Linked DNA regions of Homo sapiens. The protein of the gene in region 3 purifies or fractionates together with the protein of the main gene of each other region. This does not show direct contact. Each region holds a gene or a part of one and is shown on either strand. Other genes may lie near its edges.

Region 1 (7,083 bases), on a different chromosome or scaffold from region 3:
CGATCATGGACACGAAGACAGTGACAGCAGCCAGGGTGGCCTTCGCGCCTAGGGACAGCTGCCTGAAGATGGCCATTTTCTCTGCTCCTAGTAGGCTCCCCCACCAGTTCTGTGCTGGTGGACTCTGGAAATGAGTTCCTTAGAAAGGACAGTGGCCAAGGAGAGGTTTCCAGGTCAACTCCGCCTGCAACCAGGAACCAGCATCAGCTTTGTGGGATATTAGAGTGTCCTTGTACCCATTCAAAACTCAAAGGCCACTTACATCTGCCCAACCCACCTTGAATCCAAGCTACTCAAATACCAGTCAGTTGCTAGCTATACTTTATTATTCAAAAAGAAACTCACAGCATTGTGACATGATGGGCAGTTTTCATTTTCTTACCACATGTTCTATACGTTTAAAGTTTCTCTACAGTAAGCATGTACTTGTTTTATAAAAACATTCCAAATCAGCGGTATTCAAAGTGTGGTCTGGAGAGAGCCCTTCAGGGGTCCAATTAGTCAAAACTATTTTTATTATAATTCCAAGCCATTACTGCCTTTTCCATTCTCACTCTGTCCTGAGGGGGTGGAGTCTTCCAGAGGCTATGTGACATGTGATATGGCAACAGATTTAATGCAGAAATAAACATGAAAATTTGACTGTCTTCTATTAAGAGACATTGAAAGAGATTTGCAGAAATGTAAAACAGTGCAACTCTTCACCCTAAAATTTGGGGAGAAATACTATTGTTTTTCAAATATATATATTGTTTATTAACGTGTAATGATGTAGTATTTCTTAACAAATAGTTTAAAATATTCTCTAGGGCTGGGCACAGTGGCTGACGCCTATAATTCCAGCACTTTGGGAGGCCGAGGCAGGCAGATTACCTGAGGTCAGGAGTTCAAGACCAGCCTGGCCAACATGGTAAAACCCTGTCTCTACTAAAAATTCAAAAATTAGCCAGGCATGGTGGTGGATGCATGTAATCCCAGCTACTCGGGAGGCTGAGGCAGGAGAATCACTTGAACCTGGGAGGTGGAAGTTGTAGTGAGCCAAGATCGTGCCACTGCACTCCAGCCTGGGCAAAAGAGCGAGACTCTGTCTCAAAAAAAAAAAAAAAAAAAAAAAAAGGAATATTCTCTTAATTTCTAGGACAGCTAAAATTTAGTTAAAATTTGAGAACCGCTGGGTCACGAGGTCAGGAGATCGAGACCATCCTGGCTAACATGGTGAAACCCCGTCTCTACTAAAAATACAAAAAAAGAAAAAAATTAGTCGGGTGTGATGGCGGGCGCCTGTAGTCCCAGCTACTCGGGAGGCTGAGGCAGGAGAATGGCGTGAACCCTAAAGAAATGTAAACAAGGAGATAATGGAAAGCTAGACTGCTGGTATCTTTCTTTAGCTGTGGGCACAGAAGCCCAAGAGGGACACCTAGGCACCTGAAATGAGAATTCCTGGGGTGATGCCAGCCTCCCTGTGTGGGCCTCAGGTATGGCAGCCACAGGGCATCCACCCTGACCCAATGACGCTGCACAAGACTGATGAGCTCACATCAGACAGATTGACCCTGTCCACCTGTTCCTGGTTCATAAATCCTTCTCTCTCTCCCTACCCCCACTCCCAGATACTGGTTAAGATCTGCCTTTCCCCTAGCCCCTTACCCTGCCACTGTTCTCCTGAACTGTGCCCCAGTTCCACCTTCCCCAGTGGTTCTCACAGCTGGCTAGCTCTGACTCCTAAGGTCCTACGGGCCTTCTGGACAAGAAAACTCTGTCTACATACTGGGGTAGGGGAACCACAGACGGGGTGAAGAGGGAGCAGCAAATAATCTGTGCTGACTTTTTCCCAAAATGAAAACATTTTCAGCAGCTGTTTTCCAAATACTTAAGATGTTCAATCTTGGTTGTAGATAAATGTACCACTTTTCTCTGCCCTAGGCACGTTATTGAAAGCGTTATTAAAGGGTGTAACTTACAAGTCAACGGTGTCAAATGCTACCAGCTCTTACTTAAAGCATACTGCAGGCTCAGCCCACCTACACCCTGGAGGAACCAAAGTTGGTCCGCGGAACGTGCAGAGGAGCAGCTTGCAACTACCCACTCTCCTTTCCGCAGGTGTGATGCAAACCTCCCCAGGCAGCGCTTTGGAGCCCCTCAGCCAGTCGCCTCAGCTCGGACGCAGCGAGTGAAGCTGTCCTTCCTCTCCCACCAACTGTGCACGCCCCGCACCTCACCTATTCGCCTCGCCAGCCCTGCCCCGATCAACGATGGCATCCCCCGGCAGCCTGCCTATTCCCCCCCTCAACCTGGACCCCCAAACGCCGAAGGAAAACGGTCCCACAAATACAAAGAAAAACCCAAGCCAAAGGGCAGGCGACGGGGAGTGGTGAGAAAGGAACAAGATGCACGAAGAGGGAGAGCACCCAGAGGGGAAATAACCCAATGTTCCCACTGCAAGGGCCTCTCCTGACCCCATTTTTCTCCTTCCGGAGCGCTCCGCAGAGCACCAACTGGGAAAGCGAGGGCGCCCCAAACCAGAGCCGGAGGCACCCTCTAACCCGCGCAACTTGGAATCCCCTCCCGGAAAGCCAACTTAGGAAATGTTTACACGCACCTCGTCTCAACACCTCGTTACAGATGGGGAAGTGGATCCAAGCGCAAAGGGCGGCCGGAGCGGAACGCACAAGCGACCGAGCTGCCTGGAAGGACGCGCGCCCCGCCCGGCCCGCCCCCGACGGGAAGGCCGGTCCACTGCCTGCGTTCCGCCGGCCGCGAGCCTGCTGGGGGGCACTTCGGGGCTCAGGCTCCCCGCCCTGCGGGACCGCGGGTGGCTGCGACCCCAGCCCGGTTCCCCGCCAGCCTGTCCCCTAGCAATGCCTCCCCGTACCCGGGTCCCGCAGACTTACGCGCAAGCCGCGCGTAGGGCCCAGAAGCAGCAGAACCAGCAACAGAGGGAGGATGCGAACCAGGAACCCCGGCATGACCACCAGCCTCCCGGCTCTGCAGTCGGCGCCCAGGCCGGCCGCTTCGCGTCACTTGACTAAGGACCCACGGCCTGGCACCGCCCCTCGTCGGCCCAGCAGCCAGCCCTCGCGCCTGCTCAGCCCCGCGCCCCGCCCCGCTGTGGCCGAGCCGGGCGGGTGGGGGCGGCTAGGAGGCTGCGCGCCGCCGCGTGACTCCAGGATAGTACTATCTGGGTTTTGCAGGCGTCTTCCCTGGGAAGGGACCCTTTGGAACTGCAGTCCGGAGGGCCTGCTTTCAGCAGCTTGATAACGCGCCTCGGGGATTGGACATGAATCATGGTCTCCCTGTTCCCTGGCTGCCTTGAGAGAGCAGAAGAGGGAAATTGTTAATCATTAAACCTAAACGCCCTAGATGGAATCCGCGTCTCATATACGGGCTCTTTGAATAACTCTAAGCCGGGGGTTAGCAAAATGTGGTCGGTCCCTGGAGCCACTGTATCAACTCACCTGGAACTTGTTAGAATGAAAATCCTGCTCACGCCTGTAATCCCAGCACTTTGGGAGGCCGAGGCGGGCGGATCGCCTGAGGTCAGGAGTTCCAGACCAGCCTGACCAGTATGATGAAACCCCGTCTCTACTAAAAATACAAAAATTAGCCGGGCGTGGTGGCAGGCGCCTGTAATCCCAGCTACTGAGGAGGCTGAGACAGGAGAATCGCTTGAACCCGGGAGGTGGAGGTTGCAGTAAACCGAGATCGAGCCATTGCGCTCCAGCCTGGGCAATAAGAGCGAAATTCCGTATCAAAAAAAAATTTTCTTTTTTAAAATAACCTTAGTTTATGCCTTGGTGTTCCAAAAAGCCTTTTTACATTGTATAACAAAGTAGCCAAAATTCTATTTGTTCACTCCTTTCTCCTTTCCTACCGGACATGTCCTTGAGAGATTGAGAAAGTATCAGAAAGGACATTTCATTGAGAGATTGAGAAAGTATCAGTTACTGGCTTTTCTTAGGTTTTTGTTTTTTGGTTTGGGGGGTTGTTTTTTTGTTTTGTTTTTGTGTTTTTTGAGACAGGGTCTCACTCTGTCACCCAGGCTGGAGTGGGGCGCAATCACGGCTTACTGCAGCTTTGGCCTCCTGGGCTCAAGCAATTCTCCCGTCTCAGCCTACCAAGTGGCTGGGACTACAGGCGTGCGCCACCACACCCGGCTAATTTTTGTATTTTTTGTAGAGACAGGGTCTCACCACGTTTCCCAGGCAGGTCTTGAAGTTCTGGGATCAAGCAATCTACCTGCCTGGAACTCCCAAAATGCTGGAATTACAGACATGAGCCACCGTGCCTGGCTTCTTTTCATGCCTGTAGTACCAATTCCGTGTCCTTGCACTGTGAAGTCCTTTCCAAGCTCTGCAATTCTAGTTCAGTATTAAAGAACAAGGGCTCTGGAGGAAGTACACTTGAGTTGGAATTCCAGCTCTGCCACTTACTGTCTGTGTAACTGTGGGCAAATTACTTAACCTCTCTGAGCTTAGTTTCTTTGTTGGTAAAGCAGGGCTAATAATATCAAATTCACTGGATAATTGGGGAAATTACCAGAGATGATGACGATAAGAAGCTTGGTATATACAGGATGTTAGTGGGACAGTTGATGAAATCAGAATTAGACTTGTAGGTTAGATTAGTACCATGCATCAATGTTAATTTCCTTTTTGGGGGGGTGGGGGGACAGAGTCTCACTCTGTCACCCAGGCTGGAGTGCAGTGGCACAATCTCGGCTCACTGCAACCTCCGCCTCCCAGGTTCAAGTGATTCTCCCACCTCAGCCTCCAAAGTAGCTGGGATTACAGGCACCCACCACTAGGCTTGGCTAATTTTTGTATTTTTAGTAGAGATGGGGTATCACCATGTTAGCCAGGCTGGTCTGGAGCTCTTGACCTCAAGTGATTTGCCCACCTCGGCCTCCCAAAGTGCTGGGATTACAGGCATGAGCCACTGTGCCCGGCCGCATCAATGTTAACTTTCTGATTTTGATAATGGTACACGGTCTAAATATTAAATAATAGTTTTGTATTAGTGTATTGATTTGGGTAACGGTAATGGTAATTTTGGTAATGGTTATATAAAAGAACATCCTTGTTTTTTAGGAAACAAAAGGGCATCATCTTTGCAACTGATTCTCAAACAGTTCACAAAAAAAAATGGAGAGAGAGAGAAAGAGAGAGAGAGAGAGGGAGAGAAATGGTATTCCAGGCATGAAAAGAACGTGAGAAAGAAAAGCAAATGTGGTAAAATGTTAACATTTGGAAAATCAATGAAGGAATTATTTTTACTCTTTTTTTCAACTTTTTGTTTCTAAGCCTGAAATTATTGCAGAACGAAGTTTAAAAACAAAACAAAACAAAAATCCTTAACACATGGCAGATTCAACTTCTTCTACCTTCTTTCCTACTCTGTACACTCAGGGTTATCATATGCAATAGGTATTTTTAACTGAACTGAGGTAGAAAGGGTTTAGAGCAGGAGTTGGCAAACTAAGGGCAGAGGATCAAATCTGGCCTGCTGCCTGTTTTTCTTTTTCTTTTTAAAATTCTTTTTACTAAGAATCGGCACAATTTGCTGCCAGTTTTTCTATGGCCTGCCACCTAAAAATGGTTTTTACATTTTTAAATGAATGAAAAAAAATCAAAAGAATAATATTTTATGACATTTGAAAATGTTGTAAGTTTCCTGTGTCAGTGTCCATAAATAAAGTTTTGTGGGGTTGGTTTTTGTTTTTTTTGTTTTGTTTTGTTTTTTTAGACACAGTCTTGCTCTGTCACCCAGGCTGGAGTGCAGTGGTGCAATCATAGCTCACAGCAGCCTTGAACTCCTGAGCTGAAGCAGTCGTCCCATGTCGGCCTCCTGAGTAGCTAAGTAGCTGGGACTACAGGCGAGTGCCACCATGCCTGAATAATTTTTTTTTTTCTAAAGACAAGATCTTGCCTTGTTGCCAGGGTTGGTCTTGAACTCCTGGCCTCAAGTAATCTGCCCACTTTGGCTGCCAAAGTGCCAAGATTACACATAAATAGTTTTCTTAGAACACAGCCACCTATAATCCTCTGCATATTGCATATGGTTGCTTTCACGCTACAACGGTAGAATGGAGTAGTTGCAACACAGATCTTAGGACCTACAAAACTGAATATATTTATGTTCTAGCCCTTTACAGTATAAGCTTGCCAAAGGAATATAGATTGTAGATTGTTTCTGAGATTTTTAGTATTTGACTATGTTTGTAGTTGAAATGGCAATAGTAGTAATAGCCATTGTTGTGCTGAATGCTTTACCAGTATGTGTCACTATTCCTCCCAATCCGAGCTGCATGCTCTTATCCACATTTCACAGATGAGAAAGCTGAGACCCAGAGGAGTTAAATGACTTGCCAGTAGCCACAGAGCTGGGGAGCAGTAGAGTCTCTAAAGTTACATTGCCTGACGTTAGGGCCTGAGTTATTTTCACAAGGCTATGCTTCTGCTCATAGTGTACTGTTTGGTTCCCATTTAAATGCACAGACAGAGTGTGCTGGATGCAAAGCCCCCTGCATACTGGAGAATATGAAGGGACCATGAGAAGGCTGTCACCCTGCAGGCACTCATCTCTAAACATGGTACATGCTCTAATATAGACTAATACTTCTCAGAGTCTGATCCTTAGACCAGTGCTGTGCAATAAGTACAGAAATTCAGCCTAGGCACTTAGAAACTTGCAGCAATTTGAGAAAGTAAGTCTATCTGTTGAATCTAATAATGAACAAAATCATTACGCATCTATTTTTATTTCATTGTTCTAGTAATGTTTTATTTTTATTTTTTTAGACAGAGTTTCGCTTTTATTGCCCAGGCTGGAGTGCAATGGCACGATCTTGGCTCACTGCAACCTCTGCCTCCTGGATTCAAGCGATTCTCCTGCCTCAGCCTCCTGAGTAGCTGGGATTACAGGCATGTGCCACCATGCCCCGCTACTTTTATATTTTCAGTAGAGATGGGGTTTCTCCATGTTGGTCAGGCTGGTCTCAAACTCCTGACCTCAGGTGATCCACCTGCCTCGGCCTCCCAAAGTGCTGGGATTACAGGCGTGAGCCACCACGCCTGGCCTCTAGTA
Region 2 (5,762 bases), on a different chromosome or scaffold from region 3:
ATAGTTCCCACTTTCCTTTTCCAATCCCTTTACAGTCATGAGGGCCTATCACGCACGCATCTCAGGACAGGTGAGACTTCATTATATCAGGTATTTTGTTGCTATTCTAAGTTATAAGGCAGTAATACAAACTTTCTTTCCACAGCTTTGTAAGCCTTGTGCCAAAAGAAACTTTTAAAACAGCTACAGCAAGATGAGTCTGACTATGGCTTAGTATCTTTCTCATTACAATAGGCACAGAGAAGAATGCAACAGGGCACAGGGGAAGAGATGCTAAATATACCAAGAATCTGTGGAAATATAAGCTGGGGCAAATCAGTGTAATCCTTGACTTTGCTCCTCACCATCAGGGCAAACTTGCCTTCTTCCCTCCTAAGCTCCAGTAAATAAACAGAACAGCTTTCACCAAAGTGGGTAGTATAGTCCTCAAATATCGGATAAATATATGCGTTTTTGTACCCCAGAAAAACTTTTCCTCCCTCTTCATCAACATAGTAAAATAAGTCAAACAAAATGAGAACACCAAATTTTGGGGGAATAAATTTTTATTTAACACTGCAAAGGAAAGAGAGAGAAAACAAGCAAAGATAGGTAGGACAGAAAGGAAGACAGCCAGATCCAGTGATTGACTTGGCATGAAAATGAGAAAATGCAGACAGACCTCAACATTCAACAACATCCATACAGCACTGCTGGAGGAAGAGGAAGATTTGTGCAGACCAAGAGCACCACAGACTACAACTGCCCAGCTTCATCTAAATACTTGTTAACCTCTTTGGTCATTTCTCTTTTTAAATAAATGCCCATAGCAGTATTTGGAGTCTTTTCTTTTCTCCTAAATCCACAAACTCTCTTCTTTCTCTTTGGACAGATGACCTCTTGTCATAGTTAAGCAGAGAGTGGGCAGGATATTCCTGATAGGAGGAACTACATGAATAAAGGGGTAAGAGCACAGAAATTTAGCTACAGCTCCATGGTGAGCCATTAAAAGGAAAGAGACACTTTACCTGTGCTCCTTGGCAAGGACCTGCCAAATGTGGGAGCTAAGGTTTGTGGGAACGGAAAGAGATATGGCTGAAGTAGATGAGTAAGACTCTTATTAGTGATAGTCTTGAACCTCAAACTAAGGATTTTAGACTGTATCCCATGGAGATAAAAGGACTAGCCATGGAGGCAAAAAGACCTGGATTCAAATTCTGGCTCTGCAACATACCAGCTATTTGTCATTGGGCAAATGAATTTTTTTTTTTTTTTTTTGAGACGGAGTCTCACTCTGTTGCCCAGGCTGGAGTGCAGTGGCATGATCTCAGCTCACTGCAACCTCCACCTCCCGGGTTCAAGCAATTCTCCTGCCTCAGTCTCCCAAGTAGCTGGGATTACAGGCATGCACCACCATGCCTGGCTAATTTTTGTGTTTTTGGTAGAGACGGGGTTTCACCATGTTGGCCAGGCTGGTCTCAAACTCCTGACCTCAAGTGATCCACCCGCCTCAGCCTCCCAAAGTGCTGGGATTACAGGCGTGAGCCACCTCACCCAGTGCAAATGAGGTTTTGAGATGCTATTTCTGTTTACCTATCTGTAAAAAGGGATATTGCCTATTGTATCTTCTCTTTCCACAGAATTGTTCTGAGAATCAAAATGAGAGTCTGGATTTGGGACCTAGAGCCATTTGAGTTCTGACTCCAAAGTCTCCAAAGCTTTCTCCACTACATCACATTCATCTTAATCTTTCTCTACCTGTTTTAAATAGTTAGTTCTGTGTTTCTAACTAAATAATAAACTCACATAGGTAGAGATGTCTTTTGTTTTTACTATTCAAATAATCTTCTGGAGCTACTCAACATTATACAATCACTGGAAGTCTCAGAAGATATATCCAACTATAGGAAAAGTTTCAGCCATTGTACTATACTAATTATAGTCCACATATAAAAATCTGTGACACATAATCACAGAAAGGAAACATCACTGCCCAAGTTTATGAAGACATTTAAGAGCATCAGATTACTAGCTCTGACTCAAACTAAGCGGAATATATACAAAGCAATCCCACTTTGTACATACCAACTGAGTCTTGCTTCTAAAGAGTTTATTTACTCTGCTTATCTCGAGACTTGGTTAAACAGAAACTTAAAATACTTGTGTCTTGGCTTTCAAAATGTGTTGATACAATTGCCTTCAAATAAGCCTACAAATTTTCATGCATAATAGGTGGTTTTCTGGACACGCATCTTAGCCCCAATCTGTATGAGTGATTCACAAACACGGGTTTTGAACCTGTGAGGCCATGAGGTTATCAGAAGGAATCTATATACCATAATCTTCAGCCTGAATAAATATCTTTCAAATATTTGTATATATTTCAATTGGATGTAGATTCTGGTGTGACTAATAAATTAACTTAAAAGCATTACTGAAATCATAGCAGCTTTTTGTTATGTATTCTTTAATCAAAAATACTAATAATATGGCTATCAAGTTGTTGGAAGGGAATCTAATAATTTGGGGGTTTTTGTTTTGAGACAGGGTCTCTCTCTGTTGCCCTGGAGTGCAGTGGCACAATCTTGGCTCACTACAACCTCTGCCTCCTTGGTTCAAACGATTCTCCCTCCTCAGCCTCCCAAGTAGCTGGGACTACAGGTGCATGCCACCACACCTGGCTAATTTTTGTATTTTTAGTAGACATGGTGTTTTATTGTGCTGCCCAGGCTGGTCTCAAACTCCTGACCTCAAGTGATCTGCCTGCCTCAGCCTTCCAAAATGCTGAGATTACAGGCATGAGCCACAATGCCCAGCCAAGAATCTAATAATTTTTGGATCTTGAAAATTGTATTTCTTATTAGAAAAAGTAAAGAATCACAGGCTTACATCCTATGATCACAGATCTAAGTGTTCTGGTTGAAAGAGGAAGAAGAGGCAACATACAAACTACACTTCTGTGGACACCAAGTGTAGTGTGGCAGGAAAACATAAAGTTTGCATGTATAAAACCTTAAAAGTTGAATGCCTACAATGTACTTGTCTGTGGCAGGTATGAGAGATCGAAACCTTACAATGTCAATGGGATCAGACAAGGGCTCTATTTTGATCCTGGAAAGCATCACCAGCTGTATACATTGTATTCTATGCATTCTATTTTAAACCCCTGGAGCAGCTCAGTGGCTCGCTGGCTGAATACTGAGACACTGACATTACTGCAGGCTAGGATTTCCCCCTATAGGACAGCCACTTGTGATACTTACCCCATCAAAGTTTTCCTCCATCTTACTGTGACAGAACCTACATGAGATTCATTCGGGAAATTCTCAACAAGAGGACTCTATCCTATAAGTCGTCCCCAATCCCCAGATCTCCAATGGATTATTCTTGTAAACAGCACTTTTACCTTCCGATCGCTCTACCACAGAGGCCAAAAAGGGTTTTCCCCTAACATCCAAATACCTATTCAGATACCAGCCCTGCTCCTTCTCTTAAAATCTGTCTTCTCACCTGGGCGTGGTGGCTAATGCCTGTAATCCCAGCACTTTGGGATGCTGAGGTCGGTGATCACTTGACATCAGGAGTTCGAGACCAGCCTGGGCAACATGGCAAAACCCCATCTCTACTAAAAATACAAAAATTAGCTGGGCATGGTGGCACGTGCCTGTAATCCCAGCTACTTGGGAGGCTGAGGCAAGAGAATCGCTTGAACCCAGGAGCGGGAGGTTGCAGTGACCTGAGATCACGCCACTGCACTCCAGCCTGGGCGAAAGAGTGAGATTGTGTCTCAAAAAAATAAAAATGTGTCTTCCACTTCTTAAACCCCAAAGCTGTTTTGTTGTTGTTGTCATTTAAAACAGACACAGACTATGCTTCCCTCCTGATTTATTAAGACCGACATATTTAATTTGCATTTCTTGAGGGAATAGCACCTGGAAACCAGGGAGAAAGAAGCTGAAGCATGCAGGTCATGAATTATTCAATTTGGTGTCAATAATTTGTCAGAAAAATTAAAAAAAATCAATAGATAACCGTATTGTAGTTCAACTGATTATAATATAGAAGCAACGGATAATGAACACCCTTTCCTCAAAGTCATTTATTCTCAACCTTTGGAAATGATTACGTTTTTACCTCCAGTGAATCCCTTCATCACAGAGAATAACAGGGTACCAGCCCAAGCCAACAGTGCCCCATACCAGAGAACTCAGGGAAACAAAGACCCTAAAGGTTATGTACAATGAGAGAATCAGACTGTGAGGCTCCAGCTCTCTTCTGTATCCCTGCTCACTTTACCTCAGTGCACACCATATCCCTTCTTCCTCCATTGTGAAATGTGCATACACGTGTTTGTCTGTGAATATATAAATATCTCTATTTACACATATATACATATATAAAAATGTGCAATACAAAGACATAAGCAAGGAGTTTTTCCTAATAACTATTTAATCAGAGACTGATTGGAGAAAAAACAAGTTCTTCCCCTCAAATTTTCCTTCTAACTTGAGAACCAATTCCTGGACCAATTCCTGCTCAAAGAAAACATTTAAGAAGCACCTGTCGGCTGGGAGTGCTAGCTCACACCTGTAATCCCAGCACTTTGGGAGGCCGAGGCGGGTGGTCACTTGAGGTCAGGAGTTTGAAAACAGCCTGACCAACATGGTGAACCACTTCTCATAGAGACACATTATTAACTTGGTGAAACTTAATTGGGATGAGGAGCACTCTGTATACATGTATCATTTCTGTTTTTCCTCATTGTGATGGTTAATCTTATGTGTCAACTTGACTAGGCCACATGATGCCCAGATATTTGGTCATACAGTATTCTGGGTGTGTCTGTGAAGGTGTTTTTGGAAGAGACTAACATTTCAGTCAGTAGACTGAATACAGCACATGGCCCTCCCTAATGTAAGTGGCCCTCATCCAATCAGTTGAAGGTCTGAATAGAACAAGTAAGGGAGAAGTCCTCCTGCCTGACTGCTTGAACTAAGACCTCAGTCTTTTCCTGCCTCTGAACTGGAACAGAAACATCAGCTCTTCTAGGGTATCCAAGCTGGCCTTCAGACTGGAACTACACCATCAGCTCTCCTGGATCTCTAGCTGGCCCACTGCAGATCTTGGGATTTCTCAAACTCCATTATTGTGTGAACCAATTCCTTATAATAAATCTCAGGCTGGGCATGGTGGCTCCCGTCTGTAATCCCAGCACTTTGGGAGGCCACGACTGGCAGATCACCTGAGGTCTAGAGTTCAAGACCAGCCTGGCCAACAAGGTAAAACCTTGTCTCTACTAAACATATAAAAAATTAGCTGGGCATGGTGGCAGGTGCCTGTAATCCCAGCTGCTTGGGAGGCTAAGGCAGAAGAATCGCTGGAACCCAGGAGGTGGAGGTTGCAGTGAGCTGAGATTGCACCACTGCACTCCAGCCTAGGCGACAGAGCAAGCCTCCATCTCAAAAAATAAATAAATAAATAAATAAATAAATAAATAATAATAATAATAATAATAAATCCCTGAAGAATCCTAACTCCTCAACATAAATTAACCTGGACATCTGAGGTGCCTGCCATTATAAGAAGAAACACAACAGATCCATTAAGTGGGACAGGTCTGGGAAACAGTAAAATGAGTCTCACATCCTCTATCCACCAGAGCAAAAAAAGTGAAGAAAACTTCATGTAACTTTGTCTGATGCTGTTTGCTATACTGTGTATAAAAAGGCAGACCCCTATCCAGTACTTTGTTTCCACCCTTTTTAAAGGTACTCAGATCCTTT
Region 3 (5,064 bases):
TTTGTGTTTTTGTTGTTTTTTGGGGGGTTTTTTTTTTGGTATTTTTTTAAGTAGAGATGGGGTTTTGCCACGTTGGCCAGGCTGGTCTCAAACTTCTGGCCTCAAGTGATCTGCCCGCCTCAGCCTCCCAAAGTGCTAAGATTATAGGCGTGAGCCACCGCGCCCAGCCTCAGTTAAGTCTTAACTTGAGTATGGTCCTAGCTGTGCTGTGGAGTACTAGGGGGTGAGGCCACTCATAAGGGGAACATCGGCTGCTAGGGAAAGCCAGTTGTAGGCCCCCAAGAGGTGAAAGCAAAGAATGAAGCATTGCTTGGGGTTCCATAACATACCTGGGGAGGGCAGCCTGGTCAAAGAGGGCATTTCTGCCTTCAACTGGCAAGGCCTGCACCTCTAGCTGTAGGGGCATAAAGGGAGGTGTGAGGCCTGAGGTGTCACCCACTGTCCCTTAGAGGCCCTCCTGGGCCACCCCGGAAAGTAGGAACCCAAGAACACAACACACCACCAAGCTCTCAAAACTCAGTTTTATTGACTTCCAGCATTTCCCCCTGGATCTGAGCTCAGCCCAGCTGGTTTTGGTTCGTCTCTGAGGCTCAGTGTTACAGCGACTGGCTCCACCACTCCCCTCCCTGGCCACTGGGCTCCCCAGGCAGGGAGGAGGAGAGGCAGTTCATCTGTGATGTTGGAAAGAATGGGCAGCAGGGTCAGAGGCCAAAGAAAGCCATACAAGCAGCGGCATGCCTGGAGCTGCCATCACATGCCAAGCCCCACCACACACACGCCCCCGCGGGTGGCCTTGCCCTCGAAGCTCTCTGCCAGCCCACACTCCTCAGCTTTCTGGGGCCACACCCTGCTCAGGCAGACATGCCACTCGCCCTGGCTTGTTCCTGGGACCCCAGGCTGCCCAAGGGAAAGGTACCGCTCCCAGGTGCTGCGCGGCTCTGCCCTGCCCACTCTAACCCTGGGGCTAGCAAGACGTGTCAGGGGAACCAAGGCTCAGATCATTCCCCCTTCATCTACAACCCTGCCAGCCCTACAGGGATAAATCAAAAGACAAAATCTCCCCATCTCACAGCGAGTGACAAGCCGACCTGGGCTACTACATGTCCCAAGATGCACAGCTCCGTAACCATACACCACCTCCCCCAAGCGGGATCTATCAGAAATGAGGCCGGGCACACCGCACTCTGGGATTTGTAGTCCCCAGGAGCCAGCACCAAACACCCAAGGAAGAGAGTGCACAGGCTAAGACTACTGCCACCTCCCACCCGGCCCCCACCCGCCACCCAGGCCCCGGCTCTACACTCAGCATGGGTGAGGGGGAGAAATGGAGGGTCCCCTCCCAGCGCATGGGGGAAGGCGCTGTCCTGTTGGAACTGTGCAGCGATTCTGGAACCCGGCATCCAGCTCAGAACACATCTGGGGAGAGAGCAGGGGCGGGGTGACAGGAGAGAGCGTCAGCGGCAAGCTGTGGAGGATGGGGCTCAGCATGCAGACCTGGGCTGGCCGCATGGCCTCTCCCTGAGCCCTGATTTGTGGTAGGGAAGCAGTATGGGTGCAGTCCCCTCCTAGGCCTCCCTCTGGGGTCCCCCGGTCCTATCCCACCTCTTCAGGGTGAGCCAGCCTCACCTCTGCCTAGTCCTGAGGGTGAGGGCAGGCTGAGGCAACGAGAGGGAGGAGGAGTGGGCTCCAGTTCTGAATCTGGACAGCTGAGAGGCTCCCGCCCCACCCGGCTAGCCTCCCCAGAAGATCTCACAGCCCTACCGGCCCCAGCATCTTCCTCGCCACATTGAGGCCTTCTCGGGGAAGGAAGGAAGAAGGGAGTCCTAGCCAGACGGCAGTGAAAGCAAGCGATGCGGCCCGCAGGGAGTTGCAGAGAGAATGGGAGGGAGGAGAAGCAACACCAGAAGAGAAGCAACAGAGACGGTCAGAGCGCAACATGGCACAGAAACCAGGGTTGGGGGTCTGCAGCTGGTCCAGGAGAGCAGGAGGCTCCACTCTGCCTGCACTGCTCTCCAGTGGAGCTGCCGGCTCCGGCTCAGACAACCCTAGGCCAAGTCCTCCTTCCTTGACACCATCAGCAACACAGGTGGCAGAGTACCAGGGCACAAAAGGCCCAGCCCAAACCACTAATGCCCCTTGGAGCTCCCCATCCAATAAATGCAACCTGGCTCCTCGGGCCCCTCCACTGCCCTGACACCCCCCACCCTGGGCTTCACCAGGGACCTATCAGCCCTGGGCTGAGCACAGCAAATCCCAAGTCCACACTGGGGTGTGGGGGGCCTGGGAGGGAAACTTGTGGAGGGAGCTTGGAGTTGGAAAGCAGTTCCTACAACTCAGGATACTCCCCTCTTCTCTTCCCACAGTGAGTCAGACCCCCCAGTCAAGATCTGGATCAGATCAGGTTGGGCCCGGTGTTCAGAGGATGAGGCAGCGAGAGGCCTTCTCCTCTGGGGATGGACTGCGTTTGGTTGCTTCACCCCTCGCACCCTCCTGGGTCCCCCCCAAGCCTGGATCTTGGTGCTGGGCCTTGGGCCGCCCCTGCCGTCGGTGCTGTGCCTCCCGCCCACCTGCGGGTTTCTTCCCAGCTGCCTCCATCTCTGACAGGCTGTAGGCCATGGCCAGCTGCAGGTCCTCATCCTCAGAGAGGTCGCTGTCCAAGGGGCATGAGGCAGGGGTCTGCTGGACCTGAGTGCCCCCAGACCTGGAAGTGACTGACGGCTGCTGCTCGCGACGGCTCAGCTCCAAGCCCAGTGCCAGGTCATCTGGGACACCTGCAAGAGTCACAGCCACCATGAGGCCCCAACCTGAGCCAGGGGTATTACTGCCAGGCTGCCTCACACAGTAACAACCCTGACCACTTAGAGTCTCTTATTTGGAATTGGCACACATGCATTTTGGCACCTAGGCTTGTGATTTTGAGCACAAGGAAGTATTCAGCTCTACCAGGTAGAAGCTCCTACCCTTAGGCAAGTCACTCAACATCCCTACCCCTCCCTTTCCTCATCTAGAAAGTGGGAATGATGGCCGGGCACAGTGGCTCATGCCTGTAATCCCAACACTTTGGGAGGCCGAGGTAGAAGGATCACTTGAGCCTAGAAGTTCGAGACTAGCCTAGGCAACATAGTGAGACCCCATCTCTACAAAATAGTTTAAAAATTAGCTGGGCATGGTAGCACACGCCTGTAGTCCCAGCTACACAGGGGGCTGAAGTGGGAGGACTGCTTGAGCCGAGGAGGTCGAGGCTGTAGTGAGCCATAATCGTGCTGGGCTGAGCACGACCCTGTTTCAAAAAAAGAAAAAAAAGAAAATGGGAATGATGATAGTGCCTTCATACTCAAATTGTTCCAATGATTAAATATGTCAGCCCATGTAAAGGGCTTGGTACGCAGTGCTGGGAGTCAGCAGGCGTGAAAGGTTAGCTGTGGTGACGGCCCTGCACAGCATGGTGTTGCAGGGGCAGTTCTGCTCCGGGAATCGTGCGTCCTGAGTTTGACTCCTGGCTCTACTCCTTACTTGGAAGGAAAGAGTCTTGGGCCTGGGCTACTTGGAAGTTAGGGTCATTTAACTATGCTGCAGCTCAGGCTCCCCAAATTAAAACTAAGTGGATACCATCTGCCCTGTGTACTCCCCCAGATGCTTGAAGAATACAGAGGATATCGTATATCTGGAAGTGCTTTAAAAATAGTAAAGTGCTTTGCAAATGTAAGGCACCCCACTCACAGTGACGGCGATGGCTTCGTGAGACTCCTTCACCCCCTTCCCGACATTGCCATCTCTGATCCTACCAGTCTGGCCTGTTGCCACTCCCTCCCAAGCCCTAAGTGAGTTCAGAGAGCAGCAGTTTGGGGAGGAGGCTGCTGAGGTTGGGGCTGGGGCTTCCTGCCAGGGGCTGGGTAGGGGAGCTGCTCCTCACCATTGATTGTGACTGACTTCAGCTGCCCATCCTCCTCCACTTCCACCCGCTCCTGCCCGTTCTCCATGATTCTGTGGGAGACAGCACAGTTCAGGCAACGAGCAGTGACAGAATCCTGCAGGCGCTGGTCCCAGTTCTGGCCACCGCAGTAGAGAGCGCAGACTGGGCCCTGCCCTCAAGGAGCCAACTTTCTATTTGAACACAGCTCCCCAGCAGACCTCTCACCCCTCTATGGCCCCAGAAGGAGCTCTCACCTGCGTGTGGTGATGCGGCGTCCTTGGACAAAGGTGGTAGATGTAGAAACAGAGCGAAAAGCACCAGCCCCAGGACTGAAGGAGAAAGATGAGGAGGAGAAATCTGGCATCGGGACAAGGGAGGAGGAGGAGAGGTGGTTAGAAGAAGACTGCGCTGCCTGTTGTGGTCACCGAGGCTCCAGGCCGCCTCGCAGGGCTGCTGGAGGCAGGGCTCCCAACACAGGAGACAGGCTTGGAAAAGCAACAAGCTCAAGCCAGGGGTTCCAGGAATCGGAGCTTGCAAACGTGGGAAGGGGCAGAACTTACCGGAGTGCCCAGGGAAGGAGGAAGAGAAGGTAAAGAAGGGGCCTGAGTGTCGGGAACCCCGGTTCTGAAGCTCTGAGAAGGGGCCCAGGTCATCTGCAACAAGTAAACAGATTAGCAGTCATCTGGTAATGACATTTCCCCTCAAAAGTGTGTGAGCCCAAGTCTGGAAGTATAAACCACTAAGCAACTGGGTAGGGTTTTTCTTTTCCGCTTTTTAGTTGGGCTTATTTATAAATTCCTTTTTAATGTTGAATTCGAAAACACTCACTGGTTAATTCTGTCCACAATAAAGAATAAAGGAAGGAAGGAGGGGGAAGAGGGATGGAGGACAGATGGCTCTTTCAGTACAGGCAAATCATCATGACGCGATGACAGGCAGACACAGCTAGGAGTCCAGCTCTGCCATGTGTTATGTGACTCTGGGCTATTAACTGTGCCTCAGTTTTCTCATCTGCAAATGGGGAGAAAATTGCCCACCTGTCAGGATTCACTAGAGACTTACGAAATGTAAAATATTTGGCACATATCTATCATTAAAAAATACCACTATCTGTTTTATAGGTAATAATAACAATATTGTCACAAGATGCT

What was found.
Region 1: the proteins of DNAJB2 (region 3) and GLB1 purify together in Homo sapiens (affinity purification with mass spectrometry; 4 studies listed by BioGRID and IntAct, with this or other methods). This does not show direct contact.
Region 2: the proteins of DNAJB2 (region 3) and RNF115 purify together in Homo sapiens (affinity purification with mass spectrometry; 3 studies listed by BioGRID and IntAct, with this or other methods). This does not show direct contact.

The regions. Positions count from the first base shown.
Region 1 is NC_000003.12:33,094,120-33,101,202, forward strand, and holds the start of GLB1 (beta-galactosidase isoform a preproprotein), read right to left. Parts: upstream 3,028-7,083; 5' UTR 2,967-3,027; coding exon 2,892-2,966; exon of another isoform or gene 2,600-2,891; intron 185-2,599; exon of another isoform or gene 77-184; coding exon of another isoform or gene 1-76. Other genes in the region: TMPPE (transmembrane protein with metallophosphoesterase domain), read right to left, coding at 1-76.
Region 2 is NC_000001.11:145,738,341-145,744,102, forward strand, and holds the end of RNF115 (E3 ubiquitin-protein ligase RNF115), read right to left. Parts: 3' UTR 528-5,762; downstream 1-527. UniProt on the Homo sapiens protein: E3 ubiquitin-protein ligase that catalyzes the 'Lys-48'- and/or 'Lys-63'-linked polyubiquitination of various substrates and thereby plays a role in a number of signaling pathways including autophagy, innate immunity, cell proliferation and cell death.
Region 3 is NC_000002.12:219,282,339-219,287,402, reverse strand, and holds the end of DNAJB2 (dnaJ homolog subfamily B member 2), read right to left. Parts: intron 4,567-5,064; coding exon 4,474-4,566; intron 4,271-4,473; coding exon 4,168-4,270; intron 3,985-4,167; coding exon 3,914-3,984; intron 2,772-3,913; coding exon 2,416-2,771; 3' UTR 1,417-2,415; coding exon of another isoform or gene 1,406-1,416; 3' UTR 508-1,405; downstream 1-507. UniProt on the Homo sapiens protein: Functions as a co-chaperone, regulating the substrate binding and activating the ATPase activity of chaperones of the HSP70/heat shock protein 70 family. In parallel, also contributes to the ubiquitin-dependent proteasomal degradation of misfolded proteins.